Linked DNA regions of Homo sapiens. The protein of the gene in region 5 purifies or fractionates together with the protein of the main gene of each other region. This does not show direct contact. Each region holds a gene or a part of one and is shown on either strand. Other genes may lie near its edges.

Region 1 (3,460 bases), on a different chromosome or scaffold from region 5:
AGGCGGTGGAGGGGCTGGTGGGCTAGGGCAGGGCACGGGACCTGTGGGTCCTCAACGCCTCTTCTCCCCAGAACTACATCACCCCCGAGGAGCTGCGGCGCGAGCTCCCTGCCAAGCAGGCCGAGTACTGCATCCGCCGTATGGTGCCCTACAAGGGATCCGGGGCCCCGGCTGGAGCCCTGGACTACGTGGCCTTCTCCAGTGCCCTCTATGGGGAGAGCGACCTTTGACCCCAACCACTGAGGTTCTCTATGCAAGATGGAGAGAGGATGCACCCTGTGGCTGATCCCATCCGTCCCTCGGAGCAAGGGCCTAAGAGAAAAGCCAGCCAAGTGCTTCTGAATAAAGATCCCTCTCTGGGTCTCTCCCCATCTCCTTTTAGTTCCTGAAGCAGAAGCTGGCCCCTCAGGCTCCTGGGCAGGACCAGCTATCCCACCTTGACCCGCCAGGAGTCCCTGCCATCTCTCCTCACCCCCGGGGACTGAGCATTTATACCACACTCGGGACAAGGACACCTCTTTATTGCTGTTAGAAAAGGGTGGTTACAAGTTTCCTGGACATGGAGAGGGACACTATCCCTAAATCCAAGGGAACCAGAAAATTTATAGTATCAAACAGAGGAAAGCGGGGGCAGAACAGAGCTGGGCTTAAGATCAGAAAATTTTCTTCCTGCTCATTACCCAAGCCCAGAGTTCTTGCCCCAGCTTCAACTGCCAAGATACCACCCTTCACCCCGACATCCTCCTAAGCTACCACAATTCAACAAAGGTGCAGGTGCAGAACTTCAGGGTGGGAATGGGGTGCAGGGAAGCAGGGGCTGTGCCCCAGCCCAGTGCCCTCTGCTCACCCTGAGGTACCCAGTGCCTTTCCCTCTGCCAGCTGTACCTCCCGGGGAGGGGCCTGGACACATGTCAGGCTGGGGCAGCAGCCACTCTGATCAGCACCAGGTCCCGAGCTGGGGGCCCCTCTTCAGTCCACCACCGCCGAGCTGGCCATGGTGTTCACGCCACAGGCCCCGGACCCACGATGCAAGTAGTAGTAACCCTGGGGGAGAGGGGGAGCTGGTGAGGGCACCAGGGTAGGATGGCGGCTGGAGGGCCAGGGGCCAAGCCAGCAAGACTCACCTTCTCACCCCAGTCAGTGCCCCAGCTGTTCTTGATGGCCCAAAAGGGAACGTCAGAGCCTGGGGTGCAGTGCAGAGCGCAAGGATCAGGGTCCTTAATTCTCCAGGCAGAGCCTTAATCACTTTGCACCCTTCAAATACTTGCACTGGGCCTACTGTGTGACAGGGACTAGGAAAAGAGCAGAAAGCGAGGGGCCCACCTACCAGCCTCAGGGAGAAGCCCTGGGGCAGGGAGGAAGCACGCACCCACCCGCCTATTGCAGGTTATTAGGCCATCAATATTTACCCTCCCACAGCTCAGCTTCCCTGCCATAGAGAGGACAGATGATGCCCAGCTGGTCATGGCCCAGGCAGTGGGTAAGGACAGGGTTCCTAGGCATTCCCCCTATTTCCCCTCTAGAGGACCTGAGATGCTGTGATCCCACCCCTGCCTGTGGCCTGGCTGGATGCAGGACAGGCAGCGGAACTCACGGTTGCCGTAGCCCACAAGCAACACCGCATGGTCAATGAGCCAAGGGCTGCAGAGGGGCCGGAGAGGGCGGGAGATCCCGTGGCGGTAAAACTGGAGGTGGAGAAGGAGTAGGGGATCGACTCCAAGAAGAGGTCGGGGAGGTCAACAAGAGATGGGGCAGGGGCAGTGGGGCTAGGGCCTCACCTGCATGCCAAAGGCATTGATGGCCACGGAGATTGGGCCTCTCTTGGCCAGCCAGGCTGCCAGCTCTGAGATGGGAAGGGGTGGCATCAGTAGGCACCCAGGCCCCGGCCCCACCTGACCTCACCTCACCCTGCCCCTCACTCACTCTGCTCGTTCTGGCTCAGCTCCACGGAGTCATTGATGTAGACCTTGGCCTTCTCTGCTGAGAAGTTGCAGGACTGCATGTGACCCTGGTAGCTGTAGTCATCCTCTGTCTCCAGCCCTCCTGGGGAACGGTGGGGGTGAGTAGAGAAGGGCAGGCTCCCATTTGCCATTCACAGCCAGAAATGAACTAAGCCCTCTACGCGAGGTTTCACATTCCTCGTCCACCCCAGGCCACAGGCCATCCCCTCTGAAGAATGTCTTCATTCTAGAAATGACACATCTGAGGCTGGGAGAGATGGGGAGGAGGGACCAGTAGCCAGCAAGAAAAGTGGCAGAGACAGAACTCAACTCCAACTTCTGACTCCTCACCAAGAGCTCATCCCAGCAGTCTTTCACCCAGGCTGGAGTACAGTGGCACAAACATGCCTCACTACAGCCTCAACCTCCTGGGCTCAAGCGATCCTCCTGCCTCAGCCCCCCAAGTAGCTGAGACTACAGATGCAAGCCACCATGCCTGGCTAATGTCTTTAATTTTTTGTAGAGATGGGGTCTTGCTATGTTGCCCAACCTGGTCCTGAACTTCTGGCCTTAAGTGATCTTCCCAAGTTGGCCTCCCAAAGTGTTGGAATTACAGGCATGAGCCACCACGCCTGGCTGGGTCAGCATTAAGACCTGGACCCAGTTCTGTGTAACTCTCATGCTCATGTCTCCCCCCCATTATGAAGTAACTTCTTGTACAGGGAGAAGTGGCTCCGGTTGCCCCTCCTGACCCCATTAATGCATACCCAAATTCTTTATGGCCGAGTAGGCATTGGAGGGCAAGCCGCCCATGCAGGCCTTGTCCATCTTGTCACAGTCCAAGAGCTCTAGGAGACAGAAGGCTGGTCCCAAGAAGCCCTCCTGAGGGGCTAGGCTGGGGACAGAGGAGTAGAGCGAGATGCTCACCCTGTTCAGAGAGGGAGAGCAGGGTCCCCTGGTTGAGAAACCACTGGCCCTCCACATTGCCTGTGACTGAGAAGGCCCAGCAGGAGCCACACATGCCCTACAAGAGATGGGTGGAGTTGGAGTCAGAGCCGGGCCCCTTCGTCAGCCCCAGTGCAGTGCCCATGTCCCACCCTCACTTCCAGGGGTCCAACCTGGTCTTTGACTTTTGTGACAGCCCCCTTACTCCTCCAGTCCCATTCAGGTGGGGCGAGGTCACCCACAGACTTGGCTTGCTTCATCTTGTTGCCAGGCTCTTTCCTCAGGAGAGTATTCAGGTAGATAGTGCGGAACTCCTCCTCTGCGGGCAAAGGTGGGCAGGGCATGGGGAGGAAGAGTGTTCTAAGCCAGACCTGACCAGAGGCCTTGCGAGCAAGGTCCTGTCTCTTCCTGGATCCATGAGGACTGTGGCCACTATCCCTACCTGTGAGATCACTGAACTTGGTGACTCCATACTGAGCTGTGCCACGGTCCAGGGCCTGGATCTTCTGTGCTCGCACCATGTTATTGACAAAGACGGACAGGCGCCACCGGGCTTCTGAGGACCAAGGAGCAGA
Region 2 (4,317 bases), on a different chromosome or scaffold from region 5:
AAACTAAAACGCTATACACTTTTAACAACTCCCCACTACCCTTCCCTCCAGCCCCTGGAAACCATCTTTCTAATATCTATCTCTATGATTTTGACTACTCTAGGTACTGCATATAAGTGGAATCATACAGTATTGGTCTTTCTGTAACTGGCTTATTTTACTTAGCATAATGCCCTGAAGCTTCATCCATGTTGTAGCATGTATCAAATTTCCTTCCTTTTTAAAGCTGGACAGTATTCCATTGTGTGTATACACCACATTTTGTTTATACATTCATCTGTCAGTGGACACTTGGGTTGCTTCCACCTGTTGGCTGTTGTGAATAATCCTACAATGAATATGGGTATACAAATAACTCTTCGAGACCTTGTTTTCAATTCTTTTGAGTATATACCCATAAGTTGAATTGCTTGGTCATATGATAATTCTATTTTTTTTTGAATCCTCATACTGTTTTCCACAGTGGCTTTACCATTTTACCTTCCCACCAACAAGGCACAAGGGTTCCAATTTCTACACATCCTTGCCAACATTTGTTCAAAATTATGTTTTTTTAAATAGTAGTCATTGTAATAGGTCCTAATATGGCGTAGTATCATATTGTGGTTTGATTTGCATTTCCCTGATGATTAGTGATACTGAGTATCTTTTCATGTGCTTGTTGGCTATTTATACATCTTCAAGGGAAACATGTCTATTCAAGTCCTTTGCCTATTTAAAAAATCAGGTTTTGTTTTTGTTTTGAGTTGTAGGAGTTCCTACAAATTCTGGATACTGACCCCTTATCAAATATATGATTGGCAAATATTTTCTCCCATTGCATAGGTTTTTCATTTTGTTGTGTTCTTTGATGCACAGAACTTTTTAATTTTGAGTTTTCCAATTTATATATTTTTTCTTTTGTTGTCTGTGCTTTTGGTGTCATATAAAAATTACTGGCAAATTCAATGTCATGAAGCTTTCCATGTTTTCTTTTAACAGTTTTATAGTTTTCTTATGTTTAAGTCTTCAATCCATTTCGAGTTAATTTTTGTCTATGATTTAAGGTAAGGTTACAACCTCATTCTTTTGCATGTGGATAGCCAGTTTCCCCAATATCATCTCATGAGAAGACTGTCCTTTCTCACAAAATGGTCTTGGCACTTTTATAAAAAAAATTTGAACATATATGTGGGAATTTATTACTAGGCTCTTTATTGTATCCCATTGATATATATGTCTGTCTTTATGCCAGTCTCACACTGATTTGATTACTATAGCTTTGTAATAAGTTTTGAAACAGAGATGTGAGATTTCCAAACTTATTCTTTCCCAAGATTGTTCTGGCTATTTGGGGTCCCTTGAGATTCTATATGAATTTTACTATTCTTGCAAAAAGTGCTATTAGGATTATGACAGGGATTGCACTGAATCTGTAGATTACTTTGGGTTGTGTTTCCATCTTATTAAGTCTTCCAATCCCAATGAACACAATGTCTTTCCATTGATTAATATTTGTTTCTTAATTTCTTTCAGCAGCATTTCATAATTTTTCATGTACAAGTATTTTACTTCCTTGATTTATTCCTAAGTATTTTATTCTTTTTTATGTTGTTATAAATGGAATTGTTTTCTTAATTTCCTGTTCATTGTTAGTATACAGAAGTGCAACTAATTTTTGTGTGCTAGTTTTTTTACCCTGCAACTTTAGTGAATTCATTTGTTTGTTTTTTGAGATGGGATCTCACTCTGTTACCCAGGCTGGAGTGCAGTGGCACCATCATGGCCCATTGCAGCCTTGAACTCCTGGACTCAGGTGATCCTCCACTTCAGCCTCTCGAGTAGCTGGGACTACAGGCAAGCATCACCATGCCCAGCTAATGTTCTGTATTTTTCTGTAGAGATGGTTTTTGCCATGTTGCGCAGGCTGGTCTTAAACTCCTAGACTCAACTGATCTGGCTACCTTGGCCTCCAAAATTGCTGGGACTACAGGCATGAGCCACCATGCCTGGCCTTCATTTATTATTTCTAACAGACTTTTGTATTGTGTTCGTGAAATCTTTAGGGTTTTGTACATACATATAAGATCATGTTATCTGCTGAGATAATTTTACTTCTTCCTTTTCAATTTGAATGTCTTTTTTCTTTCTTTTTCTTCCCTAATTTCTCTGGCTCGGGAGAAGTGGAAAAAGCAGGCATCCTTGTCTTATTCTAGATCTTAAAGGAAAAGCTTTCAGTCTTTCACCATTTAGTCTGATGTTAACTGTGGGCTTTTCATATATGACCTTTACTATGTTGAGGTGGTTTCCTTCTATTCCTAGTGTACTGAGTGTTTTTTATTATGAAAGAGTGTTGAATCATGTCAAATGCTTTTTCTGCATGAATAAAGATGATCATGTGTTCTCCCCTCCCTACATTGTAAATGTGGCATGGTACACTGATTTTCTTATGTTGAATCATCCTTGAATTTTAGGAATAAATCCAACATGGTCATAGTATATAACTCTTTTAATATGCAGCTGAATTTTGTTGTCAAGTATTTTGTTAAGAATTTCTGCATCAATAATCATCTGGAATATTGCTCTGTAGTTTTCTTGTAGTGTCTTTGGCTTTGATAACAGGGTTATGCTGGCTTCATAGAATGAATCTGGAAGTGTTTACTCCTCTTCAATATTTCGGAAGAATTTGAGGAGGACTGGTGTTAATTCTTTCAATGTTTGGTAGAACTCACCAGTGAAGCCACCTAGTCCTGGGCTTTTATCTGCTGGGAAGTTTTTGTTTACTGATTCAATCTCCTTACCAGTTACAGGTCTGTTCAGATTTTCTACTTCTTCATGATTAATCTTGATAGAGTGTGTGTTTCTAAGAATGTATCCATTTAATCTAGGTTATCCAATTTGTTGCCATACAATCCTTCAGCGTATTCTCTTATAATCCCTCTTATTTCTGTAGAATCAGATGTAATGTCCTTTCATTACCAATTTTAGTTATTTGAGTCTTCTCTCATTTTTCTTAATCTAACTAAAGGTTTGTTAATTTTTTTGTTGACCTTTTCGAAGAATTAACTCTTGATTTCACTTGTTTTCTCTCTTGTTTTTCTATTTTCTATTTTGTTTCTCTCTGCTCTAATCTTTATTATTTCCCTCTTTCTTCTAACTTTTGGGTTTCATTTGCTCTTTTTCTAGTTCCTCAAGGTGTAAGTTAGGTTGTTAACTTGAGATCTTTTGTTTTTCATGTAAGTGCTTAAAGCTATAAATTTCCCTTTTAACACTGCTTTCACTGTATCCCATAAGTTTTGGTATCTTTTGTTCTCCTTTTCATTTGTCTCAAGATGTTTTTCTAACTTTTCTTGAGACTTATTTGGCTCATTGTTCAAGAGTGTGCTGTTTAATTTCCACATATTTGTGAATTTTTCTTGTTTTCCTTCTACTATTGATTTCTAGTTCCTTTCCTTTGTGTTCAGAAAACTTACTTTGTATGATTTCAATCTTTTAAAATTCATTAAGACTTGTTTTGTGGTCTAATATGGTCTATCCTGGAGAATGTTCTATGTGCAGTTAAGAAAAATGTGTGTTCTGCTATTGTTGGGTACAGTGTTGTCCATATGTTTATTATGTTTAGTTGGCTTGTGGTGTTATCTATTTCTTTATTGATCTGTATGGTTGTTTAAGTTATATAATTTTAGTACAGCAAGAATTTGTTTATATGGTATAGGGTAGAACATTTAGTGCTAATGTCACCCTCTTCCCTCCTTATAAATTAAAAGGTAGCATGCCCAGGGTTCCAAGCTTCTTATGTATTCCTCACTCCATGAGGCTTGCTGAGATCACTAAATATCAGTTGTGCCTTCATAAGAAGGGAGGCACTGAAGAACTACATCCTTCTGCACCAACACGTATCTTTGATCTCATGTATGTTCTCTGCACTGCTTCTGTGGTAGTTCAATAACAAATTGAAGCACAAGTAACTTTATCCATGAATGAGATACCATTCTTCCCAATCTTTGAAATCTAGATCAAGTAGTCTGGTCTACTTTAAATAATTACACCAATATCTCCTAAAAACCCTACTGGATCTCCACTACCACCCCCAAATTACAAATTATAAAGTGCAGCTCATGTACTGGTATTGAAGTAATGCTCACTGTCACATCAAAGGTAAGTAAGGCACACAAAGAAAAGACAATCACAGGATATGCAATATGTGTTGTATAGTGTGGGAGAAGTTGCTGGCTGATCACAAGGGTAATTTCCTTGGCACTAGATGTGACCATTACCTGGTTCCAGCCAACAGAATGTAAATAGAAGACCTGTATGCCATTGTCAGCCCTTGCCCAT
Region 3 (4,317 bases), on a different chromosome or scaffold from region 5:
GGTTTCACTTTCTACCGTTTTAGTTACCTGTGGTCAACTGCAGTCTGAAAATATTAAGGTATTTTGAGAATGAGAGACAGATTGCATTCATATAACTTTTATTATGATATGTTGTTGTAATTGTTCTATTTTATTATTTTTAATCTGTTACTATGACTATTTTATAAATTAAACTTTATCACAGATATGCATGTATAGGAAAAAGCATTGTATGTATGGGGTTTGGTACTATCCATGGTTTCAGGCATCTAATGGGATTCTTGGGACATATCCCAGTGGGGACTACTGTACGTTGTATTAGTCCATTACTCTTTCTCATACTATATTTAACTCAAGTTTACTTCACAATAAGTAGAGATCTAAATTTGAGTCATTTCCTTCAAACTGAATGCCATGAAACTAATTTTTCTAATCTGTATTTAACACTAATTTTGTAGTCTTTTAGTACATGCTTGCATGCCTCTTTTGGAAAGATACCAGTTTTATCAACAACCTAGCGCATGTCACATCTCTGTCTAGATCTGAAATGGTAAGCTTCAGCACACTTTATAAGTCTTCTCTTTGGAATTTATGAATGTTCTTTCATGGAAATATGTGGGATGGGGGGAGGATGACTAAGAAATATTTAACATGTTTACACAGACCTGTATGTTAAATATAGTTATAAGGAAACAAGTTTGAGAAAAACAATTGTCCATACTCCACAGATGGGTGTGTTTGTTTGTTTGTTTGTTTGTTTCAGGTTCCTGGGATTTTAACAAAGCTCTTTTCACTTTTAAAGATTTTTAATTTCCCTTCTCAGAAATTCATTTTAATTTCTCCCCTCCCATGAAATGTCTTCAACATATATATAATGTTCTATATCAGAGGTAGTGTTTCCTAACTTTCTGAAATTGTTAAACCTTCCTGCATTATTTTTAAAGCCTGTGAGAAAATTATACCTCAATAACATGTATTGAGAGTTTACTATTTGTCAAGTTTAATGCTAAGTATTTTGCATGGATTTTTCTCCCTTTATCCTCCCAACAGACTCCTGAGGAGGAAATTTATTATCTGCATTTTATAGATGAGGAAATTGAGGCTTAGAGATGGGCAAATGTAAACTTCAGCCTCAGACAGTGTGACACCAGAGCTTACTCAATTATATGGGTAGAAATGCCTTCTAGTGGTAGAAATGGCAATACTGTATGTATTTCTAGGTCAGGACTTTCTGACCAAAAAGTTAGTTTATTACTTTTAATATACTTAACTCCGAATTATCTAAAACCCTTCAAGTCCTTCTTGACATATAATATGTAATATATTAATTATATTAGAAATGTAATACCTAAGCCATTAGGTACATCTCTATGTATGTATATGCATTGTGTGTATGTGTATTTACATTTTAATTGCTAAGCCAAAGATAGAATGCTTTTGCTCTGCTAGTGTATATTATTTCTTCTTTTACTCTATTCTATTCGAGTAAAATATAATATACATAATTTTCATCATATATGACAATCTTAGGAAGGCTCTTTAATTCAGTTAAAAAAAATACTTTGTCCATTACCATAAATTTTCTATTATTAAAACTTTTGGCTCTTTTAAAACTTTCTGCCTTCTTTCCTCACGTCAGGTAAAATTCCCCCAGAAAGTACACTGATATTTAATATTGATCTCCTGGAGATTCGAAATGGACCAAGATCCCATGAATCATTCCAAGAAATGGATCTTAATGATGACTGGAAACTCTCTAAAGATGAGGTGACCTTTCCTTCTTCCTACTCCTCTTTCTACTTTTCTTTGGTTGTTTGGGGTTTTGTTTTGTTTTGTTTTTGTAACTCACTTTTTAAATGAATATGTGTATATTTCAAATCTACTTTTATTTAGGTAACATTTATTTATAAGTTTTCTTAAAATACTGATGCTTTGAAAGTGGACTTTTTCATAGTGAATCACTGTTTTGGAGAGAAATATATTAAGACTTAAAAAGCACCATTCAATCTTTTGCTTTTTTCTTCCCAATGCTTAGGGTTCACTGTATCTTATGCTTACCCTTGGGTCTTTGAAAGAACAATTTTGCCAAGACAGTTTCCATCTGGAGTTACTGTATAAGAAGCTAGCTGTCCTGAGAAATATCTCATGTGGACAGTTTCTGTTAAAACTGTAGACTGGCTGTTAAATACATCTTGTAGTGTTTTCCTGGCAATTAACAGCAAGCAACTTACATGCTCTGTTTTGTTCAGGTTGCCCCAGAGAAAAGAGACCCCAGCCTGGGTTTTACACAGCAGGGCTCCAGCCCCATCAAAATCTGAGCCTTTGGGTAAAGAGAAAGGAAGAAGAGGCTTCTCCTTATAATTCGGCCATTGCTACACATACCTGTCTTAGTCTGGCTGCTGCGGGGAAAGAAGTGGAGGGAGATATTTATTCCTGTTTTTTATCTACTCACACTCCATTCTGTCCTGACTGGTCAGATATCAAGTCCCTTTCTATGCTTTGATCAAATTCATTCTAATGGCCAGGAAATGATTAAGTCTTGAATAAGCCAAATTGTTACGAACCAGGGGTTCATGATCCACAGCCACTAAATTTATAACACCTCATAGTATTACCAGTCACATGCCTTTTTCTTCCATCCAAGATAAATTTTAATTCCCTTTCATTAAATAATTTTGAATATATAACACAGTCACATGGTTCAAAACAAAAATCTATTTATTTATTTATTTATTTATTTATTTATTTATTTATTTATTTATTTCCTGAGAGGGAGTCTTGCTCTGTTGCCCAGCCTGGAGTGCAGTGGCAAAATCTCGGCTCACTGCAACCTCTGCCTCCTGGGTTCAAGCAATTCTGCCTCAGCCTCCCAAGTAGCTGCACCATCATGCCTGGCTGATTTTTGTATTTTTAGTAGAGATGGGGTTTCACCATATTGGCCAGGCTGGTCTCAAACTCCTGACCTCGTGATCTGCCCACCTCGGCCTTCCAAAGTGCTGGGATTACAGACGTGAACCACTGTGCCCAGCAGAAAGATATTTATTTAAAAGTCTTAGCTGGGTGAGGTGGCTCACACTTGTAATCCTACCACTTTGGAAGGCTGAGGCAGGAAGATTGCTTGAGGCTGAGACTTCAAGACCAACCTGGCCAACATAGGAAGACTTTATCTCTATTATTTACTGTTTTTTTTTTTTTTAGACGGAATCTCACTCTGTTGCCAGGCTGGATTGCAGTGGTGCGATCTCAGCTCACTGCAGCCTCTGTGTCCCGGGTTCAAGCGATTCTCCTGCCTCGGCCTGCCAGGTAGCTGGGACTACAGGTGCACGCCACCATACCCAGCTAATTGTCGTATTTTTAATAGAGACAGGGTTTCACCATGTTGGCCAGGATGGTTTCAAGCTCCTGACTTTGTGATCCGCCTGCCTTGGCCTCCCAAAGTGCTGGGATTACAGGTGTGAGCTACCGCATCCGGCCTATTATTTACATATTTTTAAAAGTCTTTCTCCTACCTACATCCTCTTCTATTCTATTATCCCCACATCCAGTTTTATTAATTACTTTTTTCTTTCTTTCTGTTTTTTTTTTTGTAGAGATGAGGTCTCGCTATGTACAAGCATGCACCATTGCACCCGGCTTAGTTTTATTAGTTTCTAATATATCCTTTCAGTGTTTCTTTCTGCAAATCCAAATACATAGTCTTATTTCCCCCTTTCTTACACAAAAAGAAGCAAACTATACATGCTGTTTTGTCGTTTTGCTTTATTCACACAATATATCCTAGAAATACATTCTACATTAATCCATAGAGTTTAATGGATTAATGGATCTCTCCCCCACCCCTTTTTTTAACAACTGCATTAAATCACTTTAACTTAAAAATAAATATATACTATATGTGTACTTCTTGAAAGCTGGGGGAGAGAGGATTTGAAATTGCTGGTCTAAACAGAAGGAAGAGAGGTGATATAATTAAAACTGAAAATATAGGCTGATTTTCATTGTGGTGAATCTTGTGGGAAATTGAAAACAATATTTATATTTTTAAATATCTGAATGAAATGAAAATGGAGTCCGGGCATGGTGGCTCACACCTGTAATCCCAGCACTTTGGGAGGCCAAGGCAGGCAAATCTTCTGAGGTCAGGAGTTCGAGGCCAGCCTGGCCAACTTGGTGAAACCCTGTCTCTACTAAAAATACAAAAATTAGCCAGGCATGGTGGCAGGTGCCTGTAATCCCAGCTACTAGGGAGTCTGAGGCAGGTGAATCGCTTGAACCTGGGAGTTGGAAGTTGTAGTGGGCCGAGATCGTGCCACTATACTCCAGCCTGCGTGACAGAGC
Region 4 (4,317 bases), on a different chromosome or scaffold from region 5:
ATTTTTTGTAGAGCTGGGGGTCTCGCTATGTTGCCCAGTCTGGTTTTGAACTCCAGGGCTCGAGCACTCCTCCTGCCTGACCTCCTAAAGTGCCGTGACTGCAGGTGTGCGCCCGGCCTCAAGGCCTGTGTCCTCACCGACACGCATCTCCTGAGACAGCGGGGAGCAAGGTCATGCTTAGGGTCAGCGTGGCCGTCTTTCTCTTTTAAGTAACAGGCCCGTATATCTCAACTGACATATTTGGACGTATTTCCACATCTTTGTGTTTTTCTCTTTGTTCTTTGTATCTTTCTCTCTCGTTTTTTTCTGTTATTTTCCCTCCTCTAATGGATAAGGAAGATCCTCTGTTTCCTCAGTGGTTATCAATCAATCAGCCATGTTAACTTACTGAAGGTCTCAGTTTGGGCAGCATCTTTGCCACCATGACCCCCCGAGGTCCTCAGCCCGCCCAGCCCGCCTCTGTCCAAGGTCCTCAGCCCACCCAGCCTGCCTCTGTCCGCCCCAAGCCACTTGCGTCCTTTGCTCCAGTGTTTCAGCTCTGTTTCGTTTTATTAATTGACTTATTTTAGAACACTTTTAGATTTTCGGAAAAACTGTGCAGAGACTACAAAGGTTCCCTTATCCCCCCCTCCCAGTTTCCCTGCGCTCAGCGTCTTGCATCGGCCAGGACCTTGTATAGTTGATAGGCAGGACTGATAAACTGTTGCCAACTAAAGTCCCGGCTGACAGGAGAGCCATTCGCAGTGTTGCTCATTCTGTGAGCTCCGACAAACGGACGACGACACGTGTCCCCATCACAGCTTCATGCAGAGTCGCTTGTGGCCCTGGAAGTTCTCTGTGCCCCGCCGACCCTCCGTCTCCACGGTACTGCCTCTTCCGGACATCCTAGAGTGGGAAGCATTGTGCAGCCTTTGCGGACTGGCTTCCTGCCCTCCGCGGCCGCGCGTGGGCTCCTGCACCTCCTGCAGGCTCCACTGCTTGTTTCTCTTCGGTTCCGAGACGCCCGTGGTCCGCACGTGCCCCGGTTTGTTTCTCCACTCAGCCTCTGAAGGGCAACAGACGGAGCCCCGGGCACATGTGCTTCCCACAGGGCGCACAAGGAGGGTTGTGCTGAGCACAGGCGTGGGGCCAGGGCCGGCTGTGCCAGCCCCGGGTCCCACTGCCACCCAGGGAGGGGTGTCCAGCCTGAATGGAGGGGTGTGTTCCAGGATTCCTGACCTGGGTGGGGCCACACACACGGGTGACTCCTGAGCCGTCTTCAGCCATGCGGTCCTGGGGTCCCAGCTGCTGGAGGAGGGCCGGGCTGGAGACTCCCGGGAGTCACCCCGACCCCACACACCTCCTGCGTGGGCTGTGCTGCCCCAGGGTCCCGCCTGCCCCTGCCGGTGGAGAACACAGAGATGCCCACGCCAGGCTCGGGTCTGGTTCCGAGGCCGGTCCAAGGGCACCCCTGGACACACAGCCCAGGCAGGGGTGTTGGTCTGCTTGGCTCCGTGGCTGCCTGGCAGTGGGGAGTGCTCAGGATCCCACCTCCCGCTTCCATGGCCCGTGTACCCTGTAGCGTCCCTCCCTCAGGCTGTGCTGGCCAGTTCCACCACTGCCCCTCTCCCGATAAGCTGATGCTGCCTGGGAGAAGCTCTCATGAAAAGCAAGGTGCTGAGTTACTTAAGTAAATGGAGAAAGTGGGAGTCACTTGAGGGCTGAGCTACCGTGACATGGAATGGGGAGGTGACCCTTGAACCAGAGGCCTCAAAAACGTCCTTGTTTATTCAGAACGCAGGAACCTGGCCAGGGGGTTAGATGAGAATTGGACCAACGGGCCCTGGTGCAGGCAGACAGGGACCCTCCCAAGCATGACGGCCAGGCTGCGGGTTCCCTTAGTGCCGGTGCTGGCCCCGTTTTGGAGTCCGCTGCCTGGTGGGGTGAGTGGCGGTGGACAGTGGGGATGCTGAAAGGGGAGGGGACAGAGCTGGGCCTCACTGCACCTGGGACTGTGAGCACCACCCTCAAAGACCCGGCACAGGCAGCGCCTCCCTTCCAGGCCTCGGAGGTCAGGCTGCGTCATCCTCTCCAGCCCCACACTGTGTCCAGGACGAGGTGGAAGCACCAGGGTCGTGGCTGTGCTCTGCGGCGTGGCCTGGCGTCCCCCCTTGGAAGACAAGATGGTCGGCCGGCAGTCCCGGCTGCGATGTATCCTGCCCCCTCACAGGCAGTGTGGGGTCTTGAACTAGGGCTTTTGCCCCCACAGGCGTACAGGGCAGAGGGTGTCTGGGGGATGATATGGTGTGGGGCTGAGAGTGACCCGCGCCCTCTAACATTGTAGTGTCCTGGCTGGGGCTGCGTACTCCCCTGTGCCGCGCTGTGACAGCCGAGTGCCCTGAGACTTCTGAGCGCCGCCTGCCTGGAGCCTGTCCTGGTTCCGTGTGTTCCCATCTGAGCGCCGCCTCCCCGGATCCCGTCCTGGTTCCGTGTGTTCCCATCTGAGCACCGTCCCCCGGAGCCTGTCCTGGTTCCCGTGATCCTTCCGTTGGGGAGTTGCGGCATGAGCAGCCTCCCTCCTCCCACGCAGTTTACACAGCTGTTCCGGAGGGTTCCGCGGGGCCCTGGGGCCGCTGCCTGCCTGGAGAGGTGCACAAGAGCAGTGACCGCAGAGCCCGGCCGCCCAGCCAGCACCCCACGGGAGCCATCAGCCTCCACTAGGGCACTGGTGACAGGGAGACGCAGCCCCGGACTGCCAGGGCGGGAGGGGCAGGGGGTGAGCTCAGGTCTGGAACCTCTGAGGCGCCTGCCCACAGCGGGCTGTCCGGCCCCACCCCACCCCGCCCTGCCCAAAGGGCTCCTTGCCCTGTGGTGGCTGCACCCCACGCCCGCTCAAGACAGAGGCCCGGAGGCCCTGCCAGCCCCGCACACACAGGCCGGCTGTCCTGAGGCTCTGTCCCAGAGCTGGGCTCACCGGCCCTTAGCTGTGTTTCGGTTGTGATGAAACAACACAGATAACGCAAAGTAAGTTCATGCTTTTGAAGTGAACTCGGGGGCCTCCAGCACGTTCACAGCGTGATGCAACCGCCGCCTCCGCCTGGTTCCAGAACTTCCCATACCCCCCCCACACCCGGCAAAGGAGACCCTCACACCCGCCGCCGGGCCTCCACCAGCCACTGGGAGCTTCATCTCTGGATTCCCGACTCGGACGTTCCATGCAACTGGCATCCTACAATGTGCGGCCTCCGTCCAGCCTCCCTCCCTGAGCACCATGACCCTGGGTCTGTCCCTTTCGGGGCACGTGCTGAACTCCGATTCCTTTGCAAGGCTGCATGCGTTTCCGTGGGTCAGGCATAGGGCTCTGGGTCACTGCTGTCGTGGATGCTGATGGACTGGTGTTAGACCTCAGCAGATTCTCTACCTCCCACCATGTTCTTCTGCCCTCATCTCCTCTCTGTGACACTGAAGAGAGACCTGGGTTCACGCCCACCAGAGTGCCCACCTGGAACACAATGCATTTCCTCAGCAGAGGGTCCCCGCGAGCGCAGGGGTGTCCTCGGCGGAGGGTCCCCGCGAACAGGCATGTCCTCGGCGGAGGGTCCCTGTGAGCGCGGGCGTGTCCTCGGCAGAGGGTCCCCACAAGCCACCTGTTCTCCGTGGCAGCTGACAGGCAGGAGGCTGCATCCAAAGATGCCACTCTTCCTTCTTGGGGCCATGCGCCGTTGGCCTCGGAACACCTGCTGCTCCGTCTCTTGGGCCCAGGATTCCATCACCTCAAGCTCCTCTTCCTGTGCCGGCCTTGGGGACCCCCTCGGGCCTCGCCTCCGCTCCCAGCCACCGGCCGGGTCATCTGTGGGCCGCACAGCCTTGTGAGGACTCCGCCGGCGGGGGCGAGCACAGATGGGCAGTGAGAAGACTGATTTCCCTCTGAGGAGATGGCTCAGTGATGCTAGAAGAAAAACAAGGAAGGCGAGGTCCCCCAGGAGCGCTCAGGCCGTGCACTCTACGCGGAACTGCGTTTTCATAACAAAACAGCCGACCAGATGGAGGGCGAGAGATGCACCAGAGCAGCTGAACGGGGCGCAGCTGGGGATGCCTCTGCATGGAGCAGGGCCCCGAGCCCCGAAGCTTTCTTAGAAACAGGATCTGATGCCCAGATCTGTGCTCTCTGGAGCCCTAGTTCCCTGAGGCTAGAGTTCCCCACTGAGCCCACAGCAGGATGACCCAAGGGGGCTTTGGAAATACACTCAGGCAGGGCCCACCCTGACCCAGGCAGGCAGGTGCTCAGGGCTGGGTGTTCCTCAAAGCTCCTGATGGTTCTGGCATGGCCGAGCATCC
Region 5 (4,165 bases):
GTGGTTCACTCAAAGTTTGTGGGAGGTTTCCAGGGAGAGGAAATGCCAAAACACCACAGAGGTATGTCCCGCCTAGTGAGCGGGGGTCTTCAGGCGAGGAGCCGAGGGACATCGGTCAGTGTGCGAAGGCAGAGGTGAGGGGCAGAGTCATGGGCCCTGTCGAGCCTCCTGGATCAGCTCTGAGGTAGGGAGTTTGCACTTGGTCTTTGGTCAGATCATTAGCTAAAGAGGGTACTCCGGAATGGTTAAGAGCCTGTGAGGCCATTAGTCTGGCATTCAATGCTGGTTCTCTTTTTGAGCCTCAGTTTGCTGTTTTGTAAAGTAGGGATCATAAATGGTTTCTACTGCATGAAAGTTGGATGAAATAAGCCAAGTATGTAAAGCACTTAGTGTATAATATTCTCTCAATAAACATTGGCTGCTGCAACTGTTCTACTACTACCAGCTGTATACGGAGCCTTCCTGGATCCTACTCAGGGACTCTATAGAATCTCCTAACTGGATGGGCATTAGGGACACTACTCCAGCCCTCTGCTCAGTAAAGGGATTCCCTGATTTTTTGAACCATATTTCTGGGGCCATTCCCAGGCTGTGGGTGGGAAGAGAAGTTCTGTGAGCAGAGCCTGGTTGCTGCTCTCATCTCTCCCACCCTGGGGCCCTGGCCAGACCTTGACAGTCTACGTGGCAAAGGTTTTCCGAGTAACTCTTATAATCGTTGCACCAGTAGTGGCTGTTGATCTGGAAGAGGCCATAGTCAAAGCTTCCGTCTGCATTTTCATTTATCTTTGATATGTTGAACTTGCTTTCCACAAAAGCCAGGCACAGCCCTTAGAGTAGGGAGAAGAAGGTCAGGATTTAGAGGGGACCAAGCTGAGTGAGAAGGGAGATGGAGGAGAAAGGGAGGCAAGGTTTCAGACAAAAGGAACAAGGCCTGGGAGGCAAGATAGGACTAGAGGGCTTGAAATCTCCATTGACTTGCCCTCTTATCCTGTGGTCCATCCACCCACTCATAAGTACAATTACTCATCTGTCCATCTATTCATGTGTTTTGCACTTACTGAGCACCTACTGTGTGCCAGGAACTGTGCAAAGCCTAGTGAGGGACATTTCAGTTGGGTCAAACACAGATGCTGCCTTCAAGGGGCCTGTATTACAAGCTTAAAAATATGTACCTAAGCTTGTAATACAGGCCTTGTAATAAGCTTGTATGTACAAGCTTAAAAATATGTACAAGCTTAAAAATATGTATGCCGGGCGCGGTGGCTTATGCCTGTAATCCCAGCACTTTGGGAGGCTGAGGCGGGCGGATCACGAGGTCAGGAGATCGAGACCATCCTGGCTAACACGGTGAAACCCTGTCTCTACTAAAAATACAAAAATTAGCTGGGCATGGTGGTGGGTGCCTGTAGTTCCAGCTACTGGGGAGGCTGAGGCAGGAGAATGGTGTGAACCCAGGAGGCAGAGCTTGCAGTGAGCCAAGATCGCGCCACTACACTCCAGCCTGGGTGACAGAGCGAGACTCTGTCTAAAAAAAAAAAAAAAAGGTACCTAAAAAACCCACAAAGCAAGATTAAAGGACAAAAGTGTTGCAAGACAGGTGCACACAACTCCTGGGCAAAAGGGAGATATCCCTTCCATGCAGGAGGAGAAAGCCTTTGTACTAGCTGTCCCCTCTGCCTAGAGTGTTCTTCCCCCAGACATTTGGGTGACCAGGTCCTTCATTTAATTCAGTGCTGCTTAATGTCATCTCCTCAGAGAGGCCTTCCCTGACTTCCCCATCTAAAGAATTCACCATTGCTCCCCCTGCTTTATTCTTCTTCATAGCATTGGTCACCACCAGGCAGTACGTTATGAGTGTGTTTGTTGCTGCTCTCTTCCCCTAGGATGTGAACATTATAAGGGAAGGGAATTTGTTTATCTCTACAGCCCCAGTGCCTAAAACAGTTGTTGGTACATAATAAGTGCTCAGACAATAACTTGAGTGAATACAGCGTGTTGGGAAAGGCTTTTTTGAAGGGGGCTGCTTTTTGAACTTGGCTTTGAAAGATGAACAGGAGAGAAAGAAGCTGGCCATATAGGACATGACTAGCAGAGGAGAAATGGCTGGGGAGGGGCGGATGGTACTCACAGTCACTCAGGGAGTAACCCTCAAACCCATCCAAGTCCTCCAGCTGCAGCACCTGGGCCAAGTCACAGCGACTGATGAGGCTGGCCTGATTTAGGGCAAGAAAGCTGCTGACCAAATAGATGAGTAGCGCCTTTGTCATCCTTGGAGGGGAGGAGGTGCAGCTGAGGGCTGATGGTTCTTAGGGTCTTGCAGACTTTCTGCTGATCTTCTCTGAGAGCCTGGGGAATCTGGAGAGGGCAGCCAGGTTTCCTTACTCACTCACTGCTCCAACCTGGCTGTTTCCAATCTCTTTTCTCTTGTTTATTATTTTATAGATTTTTATTTATCATGGAAAATTAAACCTTTAAAAAAGGAAAGAGAATAGTATCATGAACCTCCATATACCCACTTCTGAGCTTCAACATTCAAAAACCAAGGCCAATCTTTCTTTGTTGTTGTTTGTTTTTTATTTTTTTATTTTTTAGAGATGGGGGTCTCACTCTGTTGACCAGGCTGGTCTTGAACTCCTGGCCTCAAGTGATCCTCCCATCTCAGCCTCCCAAAGTGCTGGGATTACAGGTGTGAGCCACCACACCTGGCCAATCTCATTTCATCCATAGGTCCTCTTATATGGGCACCCAGCTATGGGTAGTATTTGGGTATTGGGATGGGGAGTGAGGTTGGCAAAGGAGATTACTGAAGACTATCTTCACCAGCATATGTGTGTGTGTATCTGAGCATGTGCTTTTAGAAAGAGGGCCAGGACACTGGGTGCTAATCTCCCCACAACCCCACTCCCCCAGACACATGACACATGATTTTTCCCAAGGGCATACCCTGCCTGGTACAATTCTTGGTGGGCTGGCTGTAGACGTAACCTTCACTTTCACATTGTGTATGTGTGTGTGCGCGTGTGTGTGTGTTGAATAGCAAGGGCCCTAGATTCACACTGCCTGCTTTCAAATCCTGGGGTGCTATGTGACTTTGGGCAACATACTCAACCTTTCTGGGCCTCATTTGTAAAATGAAGATATGCTAATACCTACCTAAAAGGGTTGTTTTGATGATTAAATGAAATAATGCCCAGATCTTGGTTCACATTCCACACAAAAGGGAACCAGGACTCTAGGAAATATGGCTGATTCCCAGGCTGGAGCAGGAAAGGGTTATGAGATGTCTGGATTATCTTGCTGTACAAGAAATTTAAAAAGTGCTCGAAATATGTATTGGGGCATGTCAAATGGACACAAGAGCTAGCTCAAAGGGGCACCGACTGGCCAGATCTGAAACGATGTTTTTTGGTAACAGCATTATTGAGATATAATTCATGTATCATACAATTAATTCAGTTAAAGTGTACAATTCAGTGGTTTTCAGTATGTTTGCAGAGTTGTACAACTACTACCTCACTTGATTTTAGAATATTTTCATCAATCCAAAACAAAACCCTGCACCCATTTAGCAGTCACTGCCCATCCCCCACCTCCCAACCCCTGGCAACCACTAATCTACTTTCTGTCTCTATGGATTTGCCTCTTCTGGACATTTCATACACACGGAGTTACAGAAAATATGGCATTTTGTATCTGGCTTCTTTCACTTAGCATAATGTTTTGAAGTTTCATTCAGGTTGGAGCATGTAATGATACTTCATTCCTTTCTATGGTTGAATAATATTTCATTGTATGAATACACCATACTTCGTCTATCCATTCATTAGTTGATGGACATTTGGGTTGTTTCTATTTTTGGCTATCATGAATAATCCTACTATGAACATTAACATACTAGTTTTTGTGTGGATATATGTTTTTATTTCTTTGGAGTAGAGTTGCTGGGTCATGGGGTAACCCTAGGCTTAAGCTTATGAGGCCTACCAGATTTCCAAAGTGGCTGCACCATTTTGCATTCCCATCAGCAGTGTATGAAGGTTCCAATTTCTCTACATCCTCACCAACACTTGTTATTATCTGTCTTCTTGACAAAAGGTATCCTAGTGGGTATGAACTGGTATCACCCTGTTGTTTTAATTTGCGTTTCCCAGATGGCTACGGATGT
Region 6 (4,966 bases), on a different chromosome or scaffold from region 5:
ACAACTGATGTGTGGTAACAGAAACCAGATCAGCTCTTGCCTCTGGAGGGGAGGCGACTGGAGGGGCTCCAGTGAACTTTCTGGGTGGAGGGAAAGGTTCTATGCCTTGATGTGGGTGGTAGCTTTGCAGATGCAACTTTTTTTTTTTTTTTGAGACGGGTTCTCGCTGTTGCCCAGGCTGGAGTGCAGTGGCATGATCTCGGATTACTGCAACCTCTGCCTCCCGGGTTCAAGCAATTCTCCTGCTTCAGCCTCCTGAGTAGCTGGGATTACAGGCATGCACCACCATGCCCAGCTAAGTTTTTTGTTTTTTTGTTTTTTTGTTTTTGAGACGGAGTCTCGCTTTGTCACCCAGGCTGGAGTGCAGTAGTGGGATCTTGGCTCACTGCAAGCTCCGCCTCCCAGGTTCATGCCATTCTCCTGCCTCAGCCTCCCAAGTAGCTGGGATTACAGATGAGTGCCGCCACGCCAGGCTAATTTTTTTTTAATTTTTAGTGGAGACGGGGTTTCACCATGTTAGCCAGGATAGTCTCGATCTCCTGGCCTTGTGATCTGCCCGCCTCGGCCTTCCAAAGTGCTGGGATTACAGGTGTGAGCCACTGCGCCCAGTTTTTTTTTTTTTTTTTTTTTGTATTTTTCGTAGAGATGGGGTTTCGCCATGTTGGCCAGGCTGGTCTCGTACTCCTGACCTCAAGTGACCCGCCCGCCTGGGCCTCCCAAAGTGCTGGGATTACAGGCGGGAGCCACCGCGCTTGGCCTGCAGATGCAATTTTTAAAATCATTGAGCTATACCCTTAAGATGCGTGCACTTCACTGTATGAAAGTTTATCTCAATAAAAAGAGAGAATAGCGTAGTGACCTAGAACTTTGGACAGCCTTGGTTCAAATCCCAGATTTGTCTCTTCTTAGCTGTGTGCAAATCACTTCTTCTCTCTGTGCACATTTAATGCACACTTAGAAGTGGGCAGAGCACATAGCAGGCACTCAGTGAATCACTGTCATCACCATCATCATCGTCATTGTGTCCCCTGGGTCCTACTCCTATAGGAGAGGCTCCCAGTCACCATCCCACGTCTGCTTCCCTCCCTCTCCCCTGTTCTGATTCCACAATGCCATCGCCTGGTGAATTCAAGCTGCTCTGACTTTCGTGGAGTTGAAAACTCCGTGATTAGATGGCTCTGAGATTCCGTGACTTCCAAGCCAGTGCCAGGCTAAGTTCCTGCAGTTTCGAGAGTCGCCTGGCAGCGCGCCCCAACAGAGGGGATGCTGTCCCAGCCGCAGTCCCCGTCTGGAAAGCAGGCACAACACACACACCGCTTCTCTCTCCCCACTGATATATTTGATAATTGTCCAGAACCAGAGATGGCATCAGCCGGGGGGCTGAAGGGGAGTAAAAAAGAGCCCAGGGAGGTGGCTGGGGCGGGAGGAATGGATAGAGGGGTGAGGAGAGGGAGAGAAACTGACACAGAAAAGAGAGAGGAGAGAGGTTTGGGGCAGGGGAGAGAAGCCAGCCAGAGTGGGGGCGGCAGGAGATAGTGGAGGGGGTGGGGGCCAAGGTGGGGCCACAGGAAGAGAGGGCTCCTCCCCCCAGAATACAAAATTGGGGGGACTGACAGGGGCGGTCCTGGGCCTGGGGGACGGGGAAGAGATGGGCGATGTGGTGGGGCTGAGGTCAGTAGTAGGTTTCCTTCTCCACCCAACCTGGAGAGACAAAGAAGGAAAGAAAGAGACAGAGTAAGAGATGGAGAGAGACAGGCAAGGCGAGCCGCCCAGCAGAGAGAGGGACAGAGAGGGAGAGAGACAAGGAAACCACACAGACAGAGACCCGTGAGAAGACAGAGTGGGTGCCCGGAGAGATGGGAAGAGAGAGAAGAGTGGGAACCAGGTGGCAGAGCCATCCAGCAGGGCGAGGGGAGCCTGGGACCAGCTGCCTGAGACCCTGCTGCCCCCCGCCCCCCTCGGCTGCCTTGCCGAGCTCCCTCACCCCCTGGGTTCCTGCGCAGGATGAGTTTGCGGATTTCGTCGTAGACGAAGATGAGGAAACTGTAGGGGAAGGCACAGAACCACCAGCTGGGCCTGCAGAGGGGAGAGCAGGAGGGCTTGAGTGCGGGGCCCTAACGAGAGGCAGAGTTTCAGGGGACTGGAGGGGACGCAGAGGGGCAGTCTCCCAGGATCCTTCGTGCTCACAGGTGGAGGGTGCCCTGGGCGGGGCTGGGGCCTGGGGTCTTCGGAGTAATCCGTGGTGGGAGCAGCCTATGGGGGAGGCTCGGGGGCATCAGAATGGGGACTGCAGTGGGGACACCAGGGGAGGTGGGGCCTGAGGTTCAGGCTGAGTCTAAGGGAAGGCTCCATGGCAGGCGCTGGTGTGGGCAGGGCTGGGGGCAGCGGGGCACTCACTTGAGAGGGTACATGCGCAGGGCCACGTCCATGCCGGGGCAGTAGGACAGGAAGGCAGCCAGGGCCGTCTCCTCAAACAGCCCGAAGATCAGGATCTTGTTCCTGGAGGCACAGAAGGGCAGGGCTGGGCCCAGAGAGCACCCACCCTGCACCTGCCACCCCGCAGAGACAGGGGGAGGCACAGTGCAGACACCCAGAGACAGCAGCACAGACACAGAGACAGAGAGGCAGAGACATAGGGAGAGACAGAGATGGGGAGACATGCCCCGACAGAGAGAGACAAAGATAGAGGCAGAGCGATGGTGACACAGAAAGAGACAAAAGACAGGGACAGACACAGAGACAGGGACAGACACAGAGACAGACAGGGACAGACAGAGAGACAGACACAGGGACAGACACAGAGACAGGGACAGAAACAGACACAGAGACAGGGACAGACACAGAGAGGCACTGGTATAAAAAGAAAAGGCCAGGGGCACCTCCACCACACACACAGAGGCTGAGAGAGAATCTAGGACACACAGGACCCCTTGAGAGAAAATCAGTGCAGTGGCAAAACCCAAAATGGGCTGGGCATGGTGGCTCACACCTGTAATCCTAGCACTCTGGGAGGCTGAGGCAGGAAGATTGCCTGAGCTCAGGAGTTTGAGACCAGCCTGGGCAACATGGTGAAACTCTACTAAAAATACGAAAAATTAGCCGAGCCTGGTGGTGCGTACCTGTAATCCCAGCTACTTGGGAGGCTGAGGCATGAGAATCGCTTGAACCCGGGAGGCGGAGGTTGCAGTGAGCCAAGATTGTGCCACTGCACTCCAGCCTGGGCAACAGAGCAAGACTCTGTCTCTAAATAAATAAATAAAAATTAGCCATATATGATGGTGCACACCTGTAGTCTCAGCTACTCAGGAGGCTGAGGTGGGTGGGTCACTTGAGCCCAGGAGGTCGAGGCTGCAGTGAGCTATGATTACACCACTGAACTCCAGTCTGGGTGACAGAGTGAGACCCTGCCTCAACAAAACAACAAAAAACCAAAGCAAGGACACAAGAGGAAGTACACAGACAGACAGACACTCGGACAGGACAGATGGCTGTCCAGTCACCATGTGCCCCCGGCCCTCACTTCATGCCCTGCTGGAAGACCGAGTTCCTCCGGGTCTTGCAGATGATCAGATCGGCCCACTGGACGACAACGATGCTCACAAAGAAGGCCGTGTGGCAGGTGAACTCCACCACCTTCCTCTGCTCGTATGTCTGCAGGAGCGGTGACCAGGGCACGGGACGTCAGTTAGTGGCACTGCAGCCCTAGCCGCCACCCCGACGTTCCGGTGCTCTTTGCCCCGCCCCATCCTGCATGGGGTCCTCAGGGCCTCAGGTGTGTCTTCCTTCTGCGGGCTCATAGTCCCGAGGGAGGAGTCAGGAGACGTACAAGGAAGAAGAAAGGTTAATGGTGATCTCACCATCCACCAGGGGCCAGGGAGGAGGATAAGGACCCTGTGGGCCTCCCAAGGAGGACAGACAGCAACTGGGCTTTGAAGGGACAGACAGAGGTGGGGAAGAAGGCCTGGCAGGGCAGAGAGCTCCAGCAGTGGGACACAAGGCTCCAGATGGGCTGGGCCAAGGGCATCCAGGAAGCCCCAGGTGCCCAGCAAAGGCCTTGATGCTGCCATGGGAGACTGAGGGGGCCATCGTAGGAAGTGGCCATGCATGGCTGGAACAGCTCACCCCGGGGATCTTACGGTGGGCAGAGACACAGCACCCTGCCCTACTCACCCACTGCTGCCCGTAACTGTCTTCCAGGTCATTGACGGTGCGGTCATCCCAGTTCAGCCGGATGCCCACCAGGTTGCCGGGCAAGAAGCCATTTTCTGCCAGGATCACAAAGTAAGAGAAGAAGCCACCGAGAGCCTGGATCATTCCTGGAAGGAGGAGAGAGGAAGCCGAGGAGAGGCTCAGATTGGGGCCAGCAGCCAACCCAGGGCACCTCAGAGGGCCCGGAGGCCTCCTTGGAGAGGGGAGTATGCCCTCCTGGCCCTGTTATCTGGACATTGGTTCCCAGAGGGTGACCTGAGGTCTCACTTGGTGGTGAGGCCCTGAGATGGGTGGGCCACCTGGGACAGGGGCTTTGGAGAGAGGGCTCTCCCAGAGGGATAACCTGGAGCCCCTCTCTCACCTGACCTAGGCCACCTAAACATCATGAATTCTTGGGGGATCCCCAGCTTGAGCTCCCTACGCAGGAATGACCTCCCTGGGCCTGGAACCACTGCCATGAAGTCTCTGCTTGCTGGGACAGCCCCCAAGGGTGGCTGCTCCACTCCTCTGGGGATCCGCACACATCAACAGCAGAGAGGAGGAGGTGGAGAAGGATGGGGTGCAGACCCCCCCCACAGATAGCTCACTGGTTGGTCCTGCCCACGTCTGCTCCCCTGAGTCAATGCCAGGGTCCCAAGCACCCACGGTGGGCCAGGCACTGCTCTAGGCCCGGCACTGGGTGGTAAGGAGATGGAGTCCCCGGTGCCTCACCAATCTGCCCGTAGGCCATGCTGATGAGTCTCTCATTGACCAATTT
Region 7 (4,130 bases), on a different chromosome or scaffold from region 5:
CACGCGAGTCCAGCACGCGGGCGTGTGGCGCCACGAGGTGGGACACGTCTAGCAGCCAGTCGGGGCCAAGCAGGTGCGTGAGGCGGCGGCCGCCGTCCAGCGGGTGGGCCGCGAAGGGGGCGAGGAAGCGCACACCGGCCCGCTGGTACTGCAGGTGGCAGCCACGGGCGCGCCGCTCGGCCTCATCCGACGCCTCTGCAGCGGGTTCCGCAGGCCTGCAGGGCGGGGAGGCCGGGACTGGCCGTCAGCGCTGAGCGGCCCCAGCCTGCCCAGGGCCCAGCTGCTGGAGACCCGCAGCTCGTCCCCGGCGGCTCCTAATCACCAGCAGCTCCTGTTTCTCAAACGCAGACATCCGCCCCTCTTGGGGTCAGGCCCTTCCACCTGCAGGCGAGCCGCCCCAGCCCACTCCCGACTGGCGCTGTGCCTCGATCACCGCTCTTGCTCCCAAGTGGACCGCAGGGGAGACGCTCTCTTACGGGGACCCTGGGGGCGCTCACTCTCTGAAGGGCCTGGAAGCTAGATTCCAGAGGCGTGGGCCACCTCTCCCTGGGTTTTGGGGAGCCCCCTCCGAGGGTGTTCATTTCCTGAGCTCTGTGTCATCTTAGGCTCTGAGGGTACGACCAGCATAGACAGACCGCAGCTTCAAGGGGCTGACATTCTCGGGGGAGGAGCGTGGAAAGGATGGACAGGCAACATTAACCAGTACTGACGTAGATTAGGAAGTGGAGGGTGCTACGGGAGAAGTGAGGCAGGGAAGGAGGAGAGGGATGCGGAAGTCAGCAATTTCACAGAAAGCGATCATTGGCTGGGCGGCCCAGGGTGGAGGTGGGCAGAAGGAACTGCAAGCAACAGGGCAGTTTTTCTGACCCCGACTTGGGCCCATGGCTGTGTCCCCTGCGCCCTCTCCGTCCCAGTGTGACTCGCCAAGGCCTGCCAGCTTCCTCAGGCCTCCACTCACCCTTCAGCAGGGCCAGGTACCCTCCAGCCGCGGACCTGCTCGAGGGTGGTGTCGGTGAGCTCGATACGCAGCGGTAGCAGGGGGGCCCACACGGTCAGCCGCAGCGAGGCGCGGAGCCGGCGCCACCAGAAGTCCACTCGCACCCCCCGGGCGCCCCGGCTCTCCTTGCCAGCCACGAACACGGCATCACAGGCCTCAGACACCTATGGAAGGGCAGAGGGCAGGTGGGCGGGCTAAGCCACTAAAGACAGGTGTGAGGCTGGGCCGGGTGGGTGGCTCATGCCTGTAGTCCCAGCACTCTGAGAGGCCGAGGTGGGTGGATCGCTTGAGTCCAGGAGTTTGAGACCAGCCTGGGCAACATGGCAAAACTCCCTCTCTACAAAAAATACAATAAATCAGCCGGGTGTGGTGGCACATGCCTGTAGTCCTAGCTACTGGGGAGGCTGAGGTGGGAGGATCCCTTGAGCCTGGGTAGCTGAGACTGCAGTGAGCCGGACTGTACCATTGCACTCCAGCCTGGGGACAGAGTGAGACTCTGTTTCAAAATAAATAGATTAAAAAAAAAAAAAAGGCATGGGCCAGAAGAGAGCAGCCCTGACCTCAGGCCGTAGGACGGGCTCCCACTGAGTTCAGCTCTGTGTGTCACTGGAATGCATGTTGCAGCAGGATTGTTGGTTAAGCCCCTGTTCTTTGTTTAAGATTTTACTGTAGGGGCCATTCCTTGAGGTTCCCTGGGGCTCAGTCAGGGGAACTGGCCATTGCATACCAGTCTTCCTCCTGGCAGAGCAGGGGTGTGAACCCAAAACTTTGGCTCCTTATTCATGCTGGCCTTTGACATTGCTCTTGGAGCCACCTGGCAACCAGCTACAGCCAGGTAGGCAGAGGTGGGACAAAGCAGATCTCCCACCAAGGCCCTCCAGCAGGAACCACACACATTTGAGCAAAGGACCACAAGTGGGGAAAGGCACCTTCCCCCTTCAGGTGGCTGGGATTTGCATACATGCAGACTCCATGCTTCCCCTCTTAGAACTTCAAGATAGAGGAAGTTGCTCTACCACCCTCCCTTTTATTTCACTTCACAATCACCGGTAATAATAATAATAATAATTTTTACCATTGTATAATTATTACATCATATTATAACAGCAATAACTGCCATTGTTTCAGCCCCTGCTATCTGCTAAATACTGTCTTAAAGTGCTTTTAATTCTTACAACAACCCGAAGATATGTTCTCATTTTAAAGTTTAGGTAACGAGGCTCAGAGAGGTTAAGAGACCAGCCCATGATCACAAAGCTGGTTGACAACAAAGATGTGTTTCAAACTAAAACTTTCTGATCCCAGAGTATGTGCTCTCGACTCTCTCAGGCCAGCGCACTTGCCAGTGCAATAATGAGCGTGAAAGTGTCTAAGGTCGGGGGGCTGTTAGGGTTACTTGACTCGGGAGAGAGGTGGCTGGAACAAAAGAAGTTGAAGCTGTGGTTCCTCCCATGAGGTTTCTCGTCTCAAGAAGAAGCTGTTCTCTTGGGGACCCACATGAGGAAGGAGGAAAGGTGTGTGTGCGTAACTGTGCCCACACAAATGCAGACTCACATGAGCTGGGCACCTGCCACTCACCTGCAGGACCTGTGTGTTGGCAGACTCGCAGCCGACATGCTCTGTCACCTCCACCAAGGCCCCCCCGCCGTCCACAGTGACAAGGCGCACGGGGACATGCTGGGGCACTCCAGTCAGTGGTGCTGTATTCACCAGCTCCTCAGCCTGGGGGTGGAGGAGGGGCTCAGCCCCAGGCCCCTCAGCTCATGGGGCTCCTGGGACTTGGCCTCCAGCCTTCCCAGGCAGAGATGGAGGTCTCCTTACCTTGGCCAGTGGGATAAGGGCTCTGATGTCCCGCTCAGACACCAGGATTTCCCACACCATTTTGTCCTTCTCTGCTTCAGGGGCCTGGCCTGGGTACTCCAGCTGCCACGTGACGGGGCGAGTGACCGCTACGCCCCCACCAGTGCTATTCTCCACCACAAAGTCCACCCATAGGAACTCAGACAGTTCAAGGGGACTGCTGGCCAAAGGAGACAGAGAAGCCAAATGCTTGCTAGCTGCCAGGCATGGCCTCAGCACTTCCTGCATTCATGATTATCCCCATTTTACACAGGAGGAAACTGAGGCACAGAGGTTACATAGCTCACTTAAGACCACACAGCAAAAAGTAGCGGGGCTGGGATCTAAACCCAAGCATCCTCGCTCTAGACCCCAAACTCTGACCCACTCTTGGCCTCTCTAAGATCCATGAAGCCATTTAACCACCTCCCACCTGGCAAGGTGGCTCACTCCCCTGCCTGCCCGGGCCCGCTTCCCCCAGACTTCCGCTTTCCACAGCCACTGAGGTGGCATGCGGGAGATTCACTTCCAGGTCCCAGGACCAGACACTTGACCCTCTGAATGATAAGCTTCCTTTGATCAAACAAAAACCTATGTGCTGGGAACCGTCCTGGGTGCCTGATATGTAGCACTGTATTTTATTTTCAAAAATGCTAAGGGATGCATTATTATTCCTATTTCACAAGTGAAGAAACTGAGGCTTGGGTAGGGGAATGTTAACTGGCTTGCCCAAGGTTTTGCCCATCCCAAAAGCATCAGAACCAGAATTCGAACTGGGGCTACTGAGTCCATGGCCTTGACCCAGGCTCAGGGCATGAATAAGAAGAGTTCACAACCGCAGAACTGCAGCTGGGCTTTTTGGGGGAATGTGAACGGCCCAGAGAAAGGATCATTTGGTGGAAGCAGGGGGATGGAGTAGTGGCTATGAGGGCTCTACCTGGGGCACAGGATTGGTTGGCATCTCTTAGAATAAGACTCACAGACACTTGCTATGCCTGGCACATGGCTGGGGCTGGGAAGATAGTGGCCGAATGAATGAATGAAGGAATGGATTATGCCTGCTTTGTGCTGCTTCCTTGAAAAAATCTGTCCTTGGGTCTGCTCACCTGGGGATCTAGAGGCAGCATGGCAGCCTCCAAATCTGCTCAACTGCACTCTATAACCAGCCCTCCCTCCTTTGCCCCCTGGGTGGAGGGAAACTGCCCACCTGGAATCTGGCTCTGTGAGCCCAGCACGGTGGCAGGTGATGAGGGTGGTGTGGTGCCTGGAGCCCTTGAAGCGGTCCAGCTTGGCA

The links.
Region 1: the proteins of LYZL6 (region 5) and CTSF purify together in Homo sapiens (affinity purification with mass spectrometry; one large-scale study listed by BioGRID and IntAct). This does not show direct contact.
Region 2: the proteins of LYZL6 (region 5) and CLGN purify together in Homo sapiens (affinity purification with mass spectrometry; one large-scale study listed by BioGRID and IntAct). This does not show direct contact.
Region 3: the proteins of LYZL6 (region 5) and FKBP14 purify together in Homo sapiens (affinity purification with mass spectrometry; one large-scale study listed by BioGRID and IntAct). This does not show direct contact.
Region 4: the proteins of LYZL6 (region 5) and LMF1 purify together in Homo sapiens (affinity purification with mass spectrometry; one large-scale study listed by BioGRID and IntAct). This does not show direct contact.
Region 6: the proteins of LYZL6 (region 5) and ATP1A3 purify together in Homo sapiens (affinity purification with mass spectrometry; one large-scale study listed by BioGRID and IntAct). This does not show direct contact.
Region 7: the proteins of LYZL6 (region 5) and TMEM132A purify together in Homo sapiens (affinity purification with mass spectrometry; one large-scale study listed by BioGRID and IntAct). This does not show direct contact.

Annotation. Positions count from the first base shown.
Region 1 is NC_000011.10:66,562,964-66,566,423, forward strand, and holds the end of CTSF (cathepsin F precursor), read right to left. Parts: intron 3,442-3,460; coding exon 3,328-3,441; intron 3,205-3,327; coding exon 3,059-3,204; intron 2,965-3,058; coding exon 2,868-2,964; intron 2,789-2,867; coding exon 2,708-2,788; intron 2,044-2,707; coding exon 1,924-2,043; intron 1,844-1,923; coding exon 1,779-1,843; intron 1,686-1,778; coding exon 1,595-1,685; intron 1,184-1,594; coding exon 1,125-1,183; intron 1,045-1,124; coding exon 970-1,044; 3' UTR 501-969; downstream 1-500. Other genes in the region: ACTN3 (alpha-actinin-3), read left to right, coding at 72-230. UniProt on the Homo sapiens protein: Thiol protease which is believed to participate in intracellular degradation and turnover of proteins. Has also been implicated in tumor invasion and metastasis.
Region 2 is NC_000004.12:140,420,923-140,425,239, forward strand, and holds part of CLGN (calmegin precursor), read right to left. Parts: intron 1-4,317. UniProt on the Homo sapiens protein: Functions during spermatogenesis as a chaperone for a range of client proteins that are important for sperm adhesion onto the egg zona pellucida and for subsequent penetration of the zona pellucida.
Region 3 is NC_000007.14:30,016,425-30,020,741, reverse strand, and holds part of FKBP14 (peptidyl-prolyl cis-trans isomerase FKBP14 precursor), read left to right. Parts: intron 1-437; exon of another isoform or gene 438-529; intron 530-1,618; coding exon 1,619-1,746; intron 1,747-4,317. UniProt on the Homo sapiens protein: PPIase which accelerates the folding of proteins during protein synthesis. Has a preference for substrates containing 4-hydroxylproline modifications, including type III collagen. May also target type VI and type X collagens.
Region 4 is NC_000016.10:872,859-877,175, reverse strand, and holds part of LMF1 (lipase maturation factor 1), read left to right. Parts: intron 1-4,317. UniProt on the Homo sapiens protein: Involved in the maturation of specific proteins in the endoplasmic reticulum. Required for maturation and transport of active lipoprotein lipase (LPL) through the secretory pathway. Each LMF1 molecule chaperones 50 or more molecules of LPL.
Region 5 is NC_000017.11:35,937,090-35,941,254, forward strand, and holds part of LYZL6 (lysozyme-like protein 6 precursor), read right to left. Parts: intron 2,470-4,165; 5' UTR 2,268-2,469; coding exon 2,129-2,267; intron 828-2,128; coding exon 669-827; intron 1-668. UniProt on the Homo sapiens protein: May be involved sperm-egg plasma membrane adhesion and fusion during fertilization. Exhibits bacteriolytic activity in vitro against Micrococcus luteus and Staphylococcus aureus.
Region 6 is NC_000019.10:41,965,265-41,970,230, forward strand, and holds the end of ATP1A3 (sodium/potassium-transporting ATPase subunit alpha-3), read right to left. Parts: coding exon 4,921-4,966; intron 4,317-4,920; coding exon 4,171-4,316; intron 3,652-4,170; coding exon 3,521-3,651; intron 2,500-3,520; coding exon 2,398-2,499; intron 2,077-2,397; coding exon 1,985-2,076; intron 1,702-1,984; coding exon 1,673-1,701; 3' UTR 1,318-1,672; downstream 1-1,317. UniProt on the Homo sapiens protein: This is the catalytic component of the active enzyme, which catalyzes the hydrolysis of ATP coupled with the exchange of sodium and potassium ions across the plasma membrane.
Region 7 is NC_000011.10:60,930,573-60,934,702, reverse strand, and holds part of TMEM132A (transmembrane protein 132A isoform b precursor), read right to left. Parts: coding exon 4,044-4,130; intron 3,018-4,043; coding exon of another isoform or gene 3,015-3,017; coding exon 2,819-3,014; intron 2,720-2,818; coding exon 2,576-2,719; intron 1,162-2,575; coding exon 959-1,161; intron 216-958; coding exon 1-215. UniProt on the Homo sapiens protein: May play a role in embryonic and postnatal development of the brain. Increased resistance to cell death induced by serum starvation in cultured cells. Regulates cAMP-induced GFAP gene expression via STAT3 phosphorylation.